Linked DNA regions of Homo sapiens. The protein of the gene in region 2 interacts with the protein of the main gene of each other region in a biochemical or structural test. Each region holds a gene or a part of one and is shown on either strand. Other genes may lie near its edges.

Region 1 (3,500 bases), on a different chromosome or scaffold from region 2:
CCGAGGGCCGACATCTGTTCCGAACAGACAGAGCGTGGCTTCCCCCATAAGGCGCTGCAAAGGAAAAGGCTTTCCTTTCGGCTCAAGCTCTTTGCAAATAATACATGTGAATGGCTGTAAATTAGGCTTGTACCTACGCCCTTTACTTGTCTAAATATCCCTTGTGGCATTTTGGTAGAGAGTGTACGTTTGCGTTGGAGTTTGTTCGGCTTTGTGGGTCTGTAATAAGAAAAGTGGACTTTAAAATTTTCCTTCTTACATGCAGGCAGATCTAACTCCGCTGCTTATACTGTGATCAAAACTAATTAAGGTTTACATAACTGCTTAATCCCCCTCCAAAACACAAAACCAGGACACTTTGTTTATGTCCATAAAGCACACTCTAACCTTCCTCATATAGCAGGTGACCTGCAGTATCTCTTACATTGGAATTGTCTGGGGAGCTTGGAAAAAGCTTTGCAAACGCTTTGACATTTGATGTCCACCTCAGCCCACCCTCCAAACATGATTTAATTGGGCTGGGTTTGGCATGGGCATCAGGACCTTCTCTAAAGCTCTCCAGCTGATACTGATGTGCAGCCAGGGGTGAGAGCCACTACCCTAAAGCAGCTATTCACAAAGCGTGGTCCCTGGACCAGCAGCATCAGCATCACCCGGGAGCTTGCTAATTCAGATGCAAATTCTACAGCCTGCTCCCTACTAACTGCATCAGAACCTCTGGACGGAGGTCCAGCAGTGTGTGTTTTAAGAGGTGTGGCAGAGTCTGATGCTCACTAAAGTTTGAGAAATGCCTCCCTAAAACAAAGCTCAGAGCAAGGACACCTTTCTTTATTTTTCTTCACCCTTGTCTTCAGCTCTCCCTACACATACCCCAAATTTGAGTTTGGCACCCAAAGCATTATTAGATCATTATTTTTCATTTTTACAAACAGACATATTCACAATCTGAATTTTTAGTCATTTAGTCATTTGCACTAATGCAATTTATTGCCATCACTGTATGGGACTGGATGGTTATAATAATGACTAAGAGGTGAGACTAACCTTAGGGAAATACAATCCAGAGAAATATGTGACTAAATCCTGACAGTACAGTGTGAGAGGTGCTCCAGAAGAGGAGCCAAAACACAAATTTTGACATAAGCCATTAACAAAAGAAATGTTTTGCCAGGCGTAAGGGGGAAGAAAGAGAACCCCCAAATAGAGACCATCCAAGCTTACCGTGCCACACTCACATAACTCCAGACACTAGAAATTTTCAAACCCTGCATTCATCAGCCAGTGCTAGCTTATCATAGTTAAGTACAGTTGCCAGTGGGCTTTTTTCAAATACTAAAAATATATTGTGTTGCCCTTTGCCACCACCTGTGCCTGTCCCAGAGCTGGAAATTGTCATAGGATAGGGATACATGTGCTCCAGGAGGCACAGGGTTGCTCACTGACACCAACCTTCTGCCTCATAGGGTACCGGTGGCCTCTGCCGAGCAAGCTTTGTGCAGTCTGGATTTACCTGGACGTGCTCTTCTCCACGGCCTCCATCATGCACCTCTGCGCCATCTCGCTGGACCGCTACGTCGCCATCCAGAATCCCATCCACCACAGCCGCTTCAACTCCAGAACTAAGGCATTTCTGAAAATCATTGCTGTTTGGACCATATCAGTAGGTAAGTGGCAACATATTTCAGAGTCTCATTTGAAATGACAGTTCGTGCTTTCTGAAAAGACTTGTTCCATTTTGTTGTACTGAAACCTGACATCCTCAATCTACTGTTTTGGGTGGTGCAAGATATGTTACAACATCATAATTATCAGATTCGCTTCAGGAAAGAAAAATCTGTTTATGTCACTGGCTGACAACATGAATTTGTATTGCTTTGCACAGGCAAAACTATAAACAGTAGAGCCAAAAAGTCAGAAATAACTGTGCTGTTTTCCCTATTTCTTACTTTCAAGTCCACGACTCTAATTCTTGGGTTTCCCAAAGACCTCAACTTTTATAATCACTGAACTTATGATCAACGTAAGGATGCAGACCACTTTGCTAGAGAACATAAAGCCTCTGGGCTCTAGAGAAAGGTACCATGTGCTGTAGCTTGGAGGGAAAAGGTGGGCCAGAGGAAAGTGCCAGGATTTGCTTTGGGGCAAGGCTGCTTTTCAGTCCGACCCAGTGTCCCTATTGACCTTCCTCCTTTTATGATACCACACACCAAAGGATTTCAACTTGCTTCTGTTAGGTTGATTACATATATTCATCTCTCGCCAGTATTGATCTTCTGTCACACACCTAATAGTCAGAAAAGCCCAGGTAATGGAAGCTAAGGGGGCGGGTCTCAGGCAGTGAAGTGAATTGTACCTGTCAACCTCAGCAGCTTGGTTGGTAACCAAAGATTCTCTGACATTCATTTTAAAATCCAAAAGCTTAGCAGGCAGGAGTGTTGCACCTGTTTATGGCCACGCCAGTGCCAGCATCCGCTAATATGAGAGACTATGAGATTCCACCGCTTGAAATCAAGGGCTTGAGTGAGCTTATCCACAGCATTGGAATAATAGTACCAATAATAAGAGCCAACACAATAATACTATATCTTGTGTATTTTAGTTCCCATTGTTTTCTTTGCTGCTAGCAATGGGAACTATTATGCAATTTGAAGAGTAAGTAGCTCCATCTTATAGATGAGGAAAAACTGGGATTCAAAAAGCAAAATGAGCTGTGCAAAGCCCCACAGCCAGTAAGTAGCACAACAAGGATTTTATTGAATTCTGATGGGAACATCTGATGGAAACACTAACAAATCACACTTGTGTCACTTTCAAATGTTTAAAAAGTCTTACCTACTTCCTATTTTAAATTTCCCATTACCGTTTGAGATAGAAGATTCTATGGTGCTTATTTGATAAATGAGGAAACCAGAATACAGAGGTATTGTGGCTTACTGGATCATGTCTCCAACTTGCAGCAGGACTAGGACTCTAAACTTCCAGCACCATGCCCTGTTCTTTCTGTACCTTCCTTAGGAAACAGTTTTTGCTCCTAGAAAATGCTTGTAGTTTCTGGGACTGTGCAAGTTGGACTCATTCTACTAAGAGCAAGAAAGTGAAGGGCCAGTAACCACTCAATCCCAATTACACATAAAATGCCCCTGGGAACATTCTGATTTAATTGCCTAGGGTGAGGCCAGGTGATTCTAAGGGGCAGTCAGAGTTGAAGACCACTGAGACAGGTTTTCAGGGTGGTCAGCGTGATAAGTAGGAGAATCAAGATTAATGCAGAGGGAGCAAATGAAGCTATTTATTTTTACCCTGATACACTGTCCATAGTTTTACCCCAATATACTGTGCCATTGGTGAGACAAATGCTGGGAAGGTCAACCATCTTTTCCTCAGCCACACTGACTCCCCCATCTCATTCAGGCTTCATGATAACACCAGTAGTAAGGTAACAGTTTCTGAGCACTGAGTACGGACCCAGTAGTATACAAAGCCCCTTAAAGAAAATCAGC
Region 2 (3,500 bases):
TTGAAGCCAATGATCATTTACCATTCTGAAAACCCTAAGGCCCTTAAGAATTATGTTAAATCTATTCTGCCTGTGCTCAGTAAATAAACAACAAAGCCTAAATGACAGCACGTTTGTTTACAGTATGGGTTAATGAATATTTTAAGTCCACTGATGAGACCCACTGCTCAGAAAAAAAGATTCATTTCAAAATACTACTACTCACTGACAATGCATCTTGTCACTCAAGAGCTCAGATGGAGGTACACAAGGAGATTAGTGATTTTTTTCAGGCCTGCTAATACAACATCCATTCTGTGGCCCATGGATCAAGGAAAAGTTTCAACCTTCAAGTCTTGTTATTTAAGAAACACATTTCATAAAGCTACAGCTGACATAGACAGTGATTCCCTAACAGATCTGTGAAAAGAAAATTGAAAACTGTCTTGAAATGATTCATCATTCCAGATGCCATTAAAACCATCTGTGGGCCAGGCATGGTGACTCACGCCTGTAATCCCAACACTTTGGGAGGCTGAGGTGGGAGGATCACTTGAGCCTAGGAGTTCAAGACCAGTCCAGGCAATGTATTGAGACTATCACTTAAAAGAAAAAAAAAATTGTGAAGCATGGGAGGAGGTCAAAATATCAACACTAACAGGAGTTTGAAAGAGGTTGAATCCAACCTTTATGAATGACTTTGAAGGGTACAACACTTCAGTGAAGGAAGCAACTGCATGTGTGGTAGAAATAGCAAGAGAACTAGAATTAGAAATAGAGCCTGGGCTGGCTCCCAGCACTTTGGGAGGCTAAGGTGGGAGGATTGCTTGGGCCCAGGAGTTCAAGATCAACCTGGGCAACATAGCAAGGCCTCGTCTCTACAAAAAAAAAAAAAAAATCAGCCACGCATGATGGCATGCACCTGTAGTACCAGCTACTCAGGAGGCTGAGGTGGGGTCACTTGAGCCTGGGAAGTAGAGGCTGCAGTGGGCTGTGATTACGCCACTGCACTCCAACCTGGGCAACAGAATGAGATCTTGTCTCAAAGAAAAAGAAAAAAAAAAAAAAGGAAAGAAAAAAAAAAGAAATGAAGATGGAGCCTGAAGGTGTGACTAAATTGCTGCAATCTCATGATAAAACTTGAGTAGATGAGAAGCTGCCTCTTATGCATTAGTAAAAAAAGTGGTTTCTTGAGACAACCTGCTCCTGGTGAAGATGATGTACATATTGTTCAAATGACAACAAAGAATTTAGAATACCACATAAGCTTAAGCTTAGTTGATAAAGCAGCAGCAGAATTTGGGAGGACTGACACCAATTTTGAAAGAAGTTACTGTAGGTAAAATGCTATCAAACAGCATCACATGCTAAAGAGAAATCTTTCATGAAAGAAAGTCAATTGATGTGGCAAACTTCATTGTCTTATTTTAAGAAACTGTCACAGCCACCCCAATCTTCGGCAACTACCACCCTGATTGGTCAGCAGCAGCTATCAACACTAAGGCAAGACCCTCCACCAGCTAAAAGATGACAACTAGCTGAAGGCTCAGATGACTGGTTAGTATTTTTTAGCAATAAAGTATTTTTAAATTAAGGCATATATCTTTTTTTAGACATAAGGCTATCACACACAATAAACTACTATATGTGTAAACAACTTTTATGTGCACTAGGAAATAAAATTCACGTGACTCACTTTATTGGGATATTGGCTTTACTGCAGTAGTCTGGAACCAAACCTGCAGTATCTGGGAGGTATGTCTGTACCTTAACAGTTTTTGTTGTTTTAGTGCACTTAATTGTCCATGGAGTATTTAAGTCTGAAATTTTCCATAAGAATATCTTTGCAAATTGAGAAAGAACTAGCTCAGGAAAGACAATGTTCTGTGGAAGCTGAATCTATAAGTAGGAGAAATCTCTCACACACACACTGTGTTAGAAAGATATCTAAATGGCACACTTTACAACATGTGTCTGTACTTGATGTCTGGCTCACTAGGATTATGCCTGAGTTGATAGTTTCACCTAAGGACGACAGATGGTTCAAAATAAAGGAACCATTCATTTTGTCCCAGAAACACAAGGAGTTCTTTACTCATTATTTACTCATCAATTACACGATGCAAACAAATGATTTCAACATACTAATTCTCATCCCTTTGTATATTTTTCACAACGCTTTGCACCCAGTAGGTATTCAAGGAAAAATAAGCCAAACAAATAATTTTATCCCCTTCTATTTTACAGCTTATTAATTTGGCTTCTAGGGCACCACCACTCTCTCGGTTTTTCTCCTACTGCACTGTTTGCTTCCACTCATTCTCCTTTGCTGATTTCTACTCTTCTCCCCGACCTTATACTGATCTCATGTCCCATGGTACTCACTGTCCTTGGTCCTCTTCTATTCTCTACGTACACTCACTACTTGGTAATTTTACCCAGTCTCATGACTTTCAATATCTATAAACTGATGACTATAAAATTGTTATCTCCAGCTCAGGCTTCTTAGTAATACAAATTTGTATATGCAACCTCTTACTCATTTCTAACAGACATTTCAAACTTGACATGTTCAAAACTGAATTTCTGATCTTGCCCCTAAAACCTACTCCTCCTGCAGCTTTTCCCATCTCGCTGATGGCAGCTCAAACCTCTCTGACAATAACTCCAACACTCCAGTTATTTAGGCCAAAAACCTTGAAGTCATGCTTGATTCTTCTCTTTTCCTCAAGGTCCACATCTGATCTATTAGCAAATCCTGTTGGCTAACCCTACAAAATATTTCTAAAACTTAACCACTTCTCACCACTTCCATTACTATCACTATCACTTTAGTCAGAGTGACCATCATCTCTAACCTGATTTTATGCAATAACAGCCGTTAACCTCCTGCTTTTGCCCTTAAACACCTACAGTCTATTCTCAACACAGCAGCCAGGAGACTACCCAGTAAGGTAGTCAGGTGTAGTGGCACATGCCTGTAGTTCCAGCTACTTGGGAGGTTGAAGCAGGAGAATCTGTTGAGCCCAGAAATTAGTGACCAGACTGGGCAATATAGTGAGACCCTCTTTAAAAACAAAAAGGTAGGCCAGGCGTGGTGGCTCACGCCTGTAATCCCAGCACTTTGGGAGGCCAAGGCGGGCAGATCACGAGGACAAGAGATTGAGGCCATCCTGGCTAACACGGTGAAACCCCATCTCTACTAAAAACACAAAAAATTAGCCGGGCGTGTTGGCACACACCTGTAGTCCCAGCTACTCAGGAGGCTGAGGCAGGAGAATCGCTTGATCTCAGGTGGCAGAGATTGCAGTGAGCCCAGACTGCACCACTGCACTCCAGCCTGGGTGACAGAGCAAGACTCTGTCTCAAAAAAAAAAAAAAAAAAAAAGGTTAAGTAGGTCAATATCACTCCTCTGCTTCAAAATCTTTCAGTGCTCCCCCTCACTGAAAAGTCAAATAGGATGTGCCCTATGCTATGCATCATTATCTCCACTCCTCCTTCATCTCTTACTACTCTCACA
Region 3 (3,500 bases), on a different chromosome or scaffold from region 2:
TACTTTACATCAGTTACCTTCAAAGCCTGTCTCATTCTGTAATTTAAACCTTGAGGGAAGGAGGCTTGTTTTCCTTGTTCTTGCATCCCCAGAATGCACCACAATATGTACATACATACATAAATGTAGATGATAAGGAGGATTTAATGTATATTTGATTCTCTTAAAATGGAATAATCACAAGGGGAGGAGCTATGTGGTTTCCAGGAAGTACCTTAAGTTACCAAAGTTTTTAAAGGCTTTTTTGTTTGAACCTAGAAGGAATATTAAGTAGACAGTAAACAGACTTCAATACGCTATTTAGATGAGAAGGCTGGAGTCACGTATATTAATTATCTTCTGAACGTAAAGGATGCTGATGTGAACTGAGCTCTATTGCCTATGAAGAATTAGAAGTTTTCCTTTGAAATTTTAGACCTTTTTTCTCACTGCAGTCTCCCTCATTTGCTACATATTTCACAGTCTGCTCTTCCTCACTACAGATGCAATAACCTGCTTGACATTCTCCTCTGGAAAAGGAAAAGAACTACGAGAGGAAGCATGGCACTTGGATGCAGAAATTGAGCACCCTCCATGTGATCCAGAGAACAGCAACTCATACGTCTTCTGGAACCTTCTACCAACAGTAGAACCTCTTAGCTTTATGGAGAAAACAGAGTCATTCTGTCCAGAGGTGCCACCCCAAGACTGTGGAGCCTCTCCTCGGCCCTCGCTGAGGAGCCTGCCAAAGAACCAGGGGAGTCTCCTCCAGTTTGACCGGCAAGCCCCAGGCCGCATCTCCACCTCGCCCACTTTGAGGAGATTAAGGACCCGTGGCTGTGGGACAAGGCAGGATGCCTGGCAGGTGACCACCTGGGGAAGCTGGGGAGCTCCTGTGGGCTTCCCATGTTACCTTTCGAAGAGCCTGCCAGGAAGCCCAAAGGATTCTTCACACTTGCTGTCACCCTTGAGACTCCACTCAAGATTGACCTCTGAACCTGAAAGGGCCCTGAATGCAGCTGACTCACTGGAGCCCCAAACCCGGCCCACTGACAAGTATCTCCCTCCTGAGCTTCAGCCTGTCAATGAAGGGTCCCTTCACCAGGCCTCTCTTCGGCAGCAAGAAGGCCACTTCCTGCCCAGCCCCACCCTACGACACCCTAGTCCTCAGGTAACACAGCTCTAAGCCTCCGGCCTCTCAGTTGCTGAACCACAAAGCAAAATAGATCTCAGAGTTGCTTAGTTCCCCCAAGGGCCAGTAGATCCTAAAAAGGAGACAGCACAGGAAGTCACACTGAGGGGACACATTCTCTTTAGGAAGCATTGGCTCTTAAGTGAAAGGAGGGCAGCAATCTGGGGAGGAAAGAAAATGATCTCGCTCACTTTCTTCTGTCCTTAGAGGCACTTTGAGAAAGGATGCACCAAGGCCAGGCTTACCGATGGTCTGTCAGGTACCCGAGAGCAATGGGGGCCCTCTTGCAAATGCACACTATTTAAAGACAACGTCGTGTCACTGATTTAAAAGGGGAGAAAGAGCCAGTTATTCAAATTTCCAATCCCACCAAAATGTAAAACATGTTTTAACTAGGAGGGCTCATTGTTTCTCCTTTCAACATGTTTGCTTTGGAGTTTGGGATGGGTTTGAGCAAGACTAAAACATATGTTCTTAAAATTTATTTCAGGGAGAAGAATTGCACCCATCCAGGTGTGTATGCATTTATTTTCTCCGGTGCTATGACATCTGTTGACTATTTACTATTAGATTTTTATTTCTGTCCTGACATAACAAAGCTGACGGTGTGTTAACCAGTGCACTTTGTTTTATAGCACTCAAGTCACTCTTCGCATTTATAGGTGCACGAGTTTTCATTTCAAGAGTCTCCCTTTAAGAGCACAGCATTTGGGGGCAGGATACAATGCCATATGCAGTCATAGTTTTCATTTTGAATTGTCAATGTCTTGGCCCTGTGGCTTAATTAACATCCACTTAGTAATAGGTTTTGTCTGGTAGAGAAAATAGAAAGGCCAGAGATATGCAACAGCTTTTCAAAGAAAAATTTGGAGGATAAAAGAAAGGAACAAGATGTCCTGGTTAAATCTAGGGTGACCTTTAAAATAACCTGTTATGACAGACTGTGCCCTTATCCAGAATGAAGTAGACTGTGTCATTTCCAAAACCAGCTCTGAACTTTCAGCACGGCCCCCTGGTTGTAGCAATGGATCTGCCATCTCTGACAGGGATGAAGAGTTTCTGCAGCAGCAAGGGAAAGATCCATGCCCAATTTTATCTTCCTGACTTGTGGGATTGGCAGGAAAGCCCTCATTTCATTTGAAAAGTCACAGAGGATTTTTTTGGAGAAATAGCTGCTGTTTTATTACTGGACCTCAATCCTCAAGCAATAGTTTGATATTCATAGCAGTAAGGATAACATCCATGTACACATTCTTTGTTGATTTTAATCCTTGTTGGCCTAATTGTACCAACAAAGGTAGAAGATACTTACCAAGCCATAGGGAAATGCAAATTGTTATGTCTGTGTATCAGCTAGCTGTTGCTAGATAAAAAACCACTTAAAGTAACAGACAGTTATTGTTTCTTATAAATCTCTGTGTTCCCTGGGGGTGACTTGGTCTAGGCTGGGTTTAGCTGAGCAGTTCCACTCCAAATGTTCCTTATCCTGCTCATGGGATCAAAGGGCTCCCATGGGTCCATGGGATCAATTAAGCAGATTCTTTATACAGTGAAGGGAGAGGTTCAAGAGGACAAGTAGAAACATGCAAGGCCTCTTGGAGCCTGGGCTCTGAATCTGGTCTAATTTTATTGACCAAAGCAAGTCACTCAGTTGAACTCAGCGTCAGGGAATTACATGTTACCAACAGTGGGAGAGCATTGAAATGTTACATGGCAAAGTGTATGGATGTAAGGAATGGGGAAGAGTGGGGCTGTTAATGTAAATCTTCCATACATGTGAAACAGAATAAAGCTCTCAGATGAGATCTAGTTCAGTTGTGTCAAAGAAAGTGGAAAAGGGTAGTCTTAGAAAAAAAAATTATGTTTAGAGTCGAATTATTTTAATAAGATTTTGAGAAATTTTATTCCTTACCCTAAGAGCAGTGTGAAACCATTTGATGAATTGATATGATCAGATGGATGTCAGATATACCTGGGATTTAGATGCAAGTAGACTTGAGTCAAATAATTCGAATGTTCAGGTATGAGAAGTTGTTAAGTTAGATTATGATGAAGGCAGTGGGGTTAAAAAGAAGTATCTCAATGCAAGAGATATTTAGGAGATACAATCCCCCAGACTTTGTGAATGGTAGCCTATCAGGGTGAGGGAAAGGAATCTTCAAGAATGACCTCCAAGCTTCTGGCTTGTTCAACTGGGTAACCAAGGTGTCCATTCACTGACCTAGATAAACTTGGGTAAAGAAATTAAATATGAGTGGTTAGAGTGTAGGTCTTGTGTTCAGGTTTGGACATGTTGAGTTTGAGGAACTATGAAACATCTAAGTGGAGA
Region 4 (3,500 bases), on a different chromosome or scaffold from region 2:
TGTTAAAGCTTCTAAAAGGAATATATCACCCGTAAGGTATAATTCTGATTGTTTTCTTTATATTTCTGACAAGTGAAACTGTTCCCTAAGGAAGATATACTTTTCTTTTTAACAGATTTTGCAAGAATTTATCAGGATCAAGGTAGATGTGTATATCGTTGGAACTGATGGTAAGTGGCTTTATTTTTGTTTTATGTTCTGACAATCACTTCAGGCTCACTGCCAACTCTCAGTCTAGACAGCCTCTCCAAAGAATGAGTATTTTATATAATCATGATGAAAATCTAATATGCAGCCAGCCCAATAAAAATCCCTATGGAAACAGCATCTTTGTATTTTAGTTATGTTGATATGTAATTAAATACATTCTACAATTTGAATCCTGATTTCATAGGCAACAAAGGAGGAACATGTTAACTATTTTTCACTCTAAACTTCCTGAAAAGGTAGCCTTGTTTTCTGTCTCTCTTCCTCCCTTCCCTTGCACAATCCAGCCCATAACAATTTGGTTGAGCTTCACCTGCTGATGAGACCATCCTTGCCAAGGTTATCAGCGATGTCCAGATTGTTAGGATTAACGGCCTTCATCTCAGGTCCTTCTGCAGCAGCTTACCTGAGCATCTGGCACTCTCTCTAGCATTTGTCTTTGAAACTCTCTCCCTCCCTGACTCTGGCAGGACAGTTCTTATTCACCTCCTACCTCTCAAACATCTCCTCAGGGTCTGACATTGGTTCTTCTCCCACTTTCAGTCTCCCCCAAGCTTCAACCGTACACTCTATACCATAGTTCTAATTCCACAGACTCTTTCTAGTCAATTTCCTACATGTTTATGATTTCATGTGCATCTACTTGTTAATGAATCCCCAAACTATACCTCCAGCCCAGGCCTTTCTTCTAAGCTGCAGACCAATGGACTCGACTGTGGATGTCCCCAGGCACCTCAGATACACGCTTTTAGAACTACGTATATGATTCCCCCTCCCAAAAATACTTCTTTCCTATCACAATCACTGCATCACTGCTTACCTAGTTTTCCAGATAGAAACCCTGAAACCATCACCAATTTCTGCTCTCCTTCCCTCTAGTCAATGACCAGGTCCTATAAATATTTCCTCTTAAATCAGTCTCTTCCTCTCCATTTCCAGAACTTTAATCTAGACCCTTCTCACTTCTCAACTAGGCCTTCTAGAAGGACTTTCTAACTAATATCCTTGCCCATCCCTATAATGCTCTCCCATCCCATTTTCTGAAAGAAGCCTTCTTCAGGAATTTTTCCGACAATAACTGAAAACATCCTTGCTTCCCCAGGCAGAGCACCGGGTCTTCAGACTGTTTGTATCTACAGAGTACGCACGTATCACATAATTTTGCAGTTCAGTTTCTGTCCCTACTAGACTATATCTCTTCCAGGGCAGGTATTGTTCCTGCTTACCTTCTTCCTGTCTCTTCCCTAGATCCTAGGACATGATGGGCATTCAGTAAAGACTTATTGAATACCTACTATTTATCAGGCACAGTTCTGGGTGCTGGGAATATAGCAGTGAATCTGACAAGCCTCTGTCCTCATGAAGCTTATAGTCTCATAGAAAAGCCACATAATAAACAAACAAAAGCATATTTCAGGTAGTGATAAGTGCTAAGAGAAAAGCAGAGTTAAGAAACAGAGGCTGGGAGCGGTGGCTCATGCCTGTAATCTTAGCACTCCAGAAAGCTGAGGCAGGCAGATCACTTAAGCCCCAGCGTTTGAGACTAGCCTGGGCAACATGGTGAAACCTCGTCTCTAAAAAAAAAAAAAAATGTTAGCTGGGTGTGGTGGCATGTGCCTGTAGTCCCAGCTACTCAGGAGGTTGAGATGGAAGGATCGCTTGAGCCTGGGAGGTCAAGGCTGCGGTAAGCTGTGATCGTGCCACTGCACACTAGCCTGGGTGACAGAGCAAGACCCTGTCTCAAATCAAAAAAAAAAAAAAAAAAAAAAAAAAAAAAAAAAAAAAAAAAAAAAAAAAAAAAAAAAAAAAAAAAAAAAAAACCCCTTTTTTTTTTTAAAAAAAAAAAAAAAAAAAAAAAAAAAAGAAAGAAAAGAAAGAGAGAAAGAAAGAAAGAGAAAGAAGAAAGAAGAAAGACGAAATAAGAAAGAAAGAAAGAAAAAAGAGAGAAAGAAAAAGAAAGAAAAGAGAAAGAAAGAAAGAAAGAAAGAAAGAAAGAAAGAAAGAAAGAAAGAAAGAGAAAAAAGGAAGGAAGGAAGGGAGGGAGGGAGGCAGAAAGAAAAACTGGTGATCAGGGATGTCCAGCAATATGACATTTTGAGTACAGACTAGAACGAAGTGAGGCAGTCAACCTTGACAGTACTTAGGGGGAGCTTTTTAGGGAGAGGAGACAAGTGGTACACATATCCTTCGAAAAGTATAAAATTGGCATCCTTAATCTCTCCCTTTCTACTGGATCCTGTCCCTAAAATATACAGACATATTCTAGTTTCAAGACTTTTAAAAAAAACTTTTAAGTTCAGGGGTACACATGCAGGTTTGTTACATAGGTAAACTCGTGTCATGGGGGTTTATTGTATAGATTATTTTGTCACCCAGATATTAAGCCTAGCACCCATTAGTTACTTTTCCTGATCCTTTCCTTCCTCCCACCCTTCACCCTCCGATAGGCCCCAGTGTGGGTTGTTCCCCTCCATGTGTCCATACGTTCTCATCATTTAGCTCCCACTTATAAGTGAGAATATGCAGTATTTGGTTTTCTGTTCCTGCATTACTTTGCTAAGGATAATGGCCTCCAACTCCATGTACCTGCAAAGGATATTGTTTTTTTTTAATTTTTTTATATGTTTTTATATAGTATTCCACGGTGTATATGTACCACATTTTCTTTATCCAGTCTATCACTGATGGGCATTTGAGTCCATGTCTTTGCTATTGTGAATAGTGCAGCAATCAATGTATGCATGCATGCGTCTTTATAAAAGAATGATTTATATTCCTTTGGGTATATATCCAGTAATGGAATTGCTGGGTCAAATGGTATTTTTGTCTTCAGCCCTGTGAGGAATCGCCACACTGTGCTTATACACTGTTGGTGGGAGTGAAAATTAGTTCAACCATTGTCAAGGCTTCCTTATAATTAAAAACATCCCCTTGATCCCAGAAACCTTTAATTTACTAACAATTTTACCCTTTCCTCATCATCCCAGATATTTTGGAAAGTATCTGTTCCTGCTGTCTCTGCTGCCTGGCATTCTTTTCAGTCTTTATCAAAGATTATCACCTTCCTTCCCATTGCATGCCACCCACTCCATCCCAGATCCTGGTGGCCACAATGCCCTCCACGCTCCCTCTCCCTCTGTCACTGAAAGCTTTCTGTAAACAGAAGAATCCATCTTCATAACTGTGTACCTTCTCTTCCTCCACTTTTCTGCAAATCCTAGGCACGTTTAGACGGTATCTGCTCAAGTTTTCCCAGATACCCACCAAGAGGAAAATTTCTCAGAATTTTCATA

The links.
Region 1: the proteins of RAPGEF6 (region 2) and HTR2A interact in a test that uses a peptide from one of them, tested with the Homo sapiens proteins (one large-scale study listed by IntAct).
Region 3: the proteins of RAPGEF6 (region 2) and PLEKHG7 interact in a test that uses a peptide from one of them, tested with the Homo sapiens proteins (one large-scale study listed by IntAct).
Region 4: the proteins of RAPGEF6 (region 2) and SLC26A3 interact in a test that uses a peptide from one of them, tested with the Homo sapiens proteins (one large-scale study listed by IntAct).

What each region holds. Positions count from the first base shown.
Region 1 is NC_000013.11:46,890,554-46,894,053, reverse strand, and holds part of HTR2A (5-hydroxytryptamine receptor 2A), read left to right. Parts: intron 1-1,463; coding exon 1,464-1,664; intron 1,665-3,500. UniProt on the Homo sapiens protein: G-protein coupled receptor for 5-hydroxytryptamine (serotonin).
Region 2 is NC_000005.10:131,628,730-131,632,229, forward strand, and holds part of RAPGEF6 (rap guanine nucleotide exchange factor 6), read right to left. Parts: intron 1-3,500. UniProt on the Homo sapiens protein: Guanine nucleotide exchange factor (GEF) for Rap1A, Rap2A and M-Ras GTPases. Does not interact with cAMP.
Region 3 is NC_000012.12:92,705,989-92,709,488, forward strand, and holds part of PLEKHG7 (pleckstrin homology domain-containing family G member 7), read left to right. Parts: intron 1-482; coding exon of another isoform or gene 483-643; coding exon 644-1,150; coding exon of another isoform or gene 1,151-1,165; exon of another isoform or gene 1,166-1,661; coding exon 1,662-1,684; coding exon of another isoform or gene 1,685-1,727; exon of another isoform or gene 1,728-2,561; intron 2,562-3,500.
Region 4 is NC_000007.14:107,768,724-107,772,223, reverse strand, and holds part of SLC26A3 (chloride anion exchanger), read left to right. Parts: intron 1-115; coding exon 116-170; intron 171-3,500. UniProt on the Homo sapiens protein: Mediates chloride-bicarbonate exchange with a chloride bicarbonate stoichiometry of 2:1 in the intestinal epithelia. Plays a role in the chloride and bicarbonate homeostasis during sperm epididymal maturation and capacitation.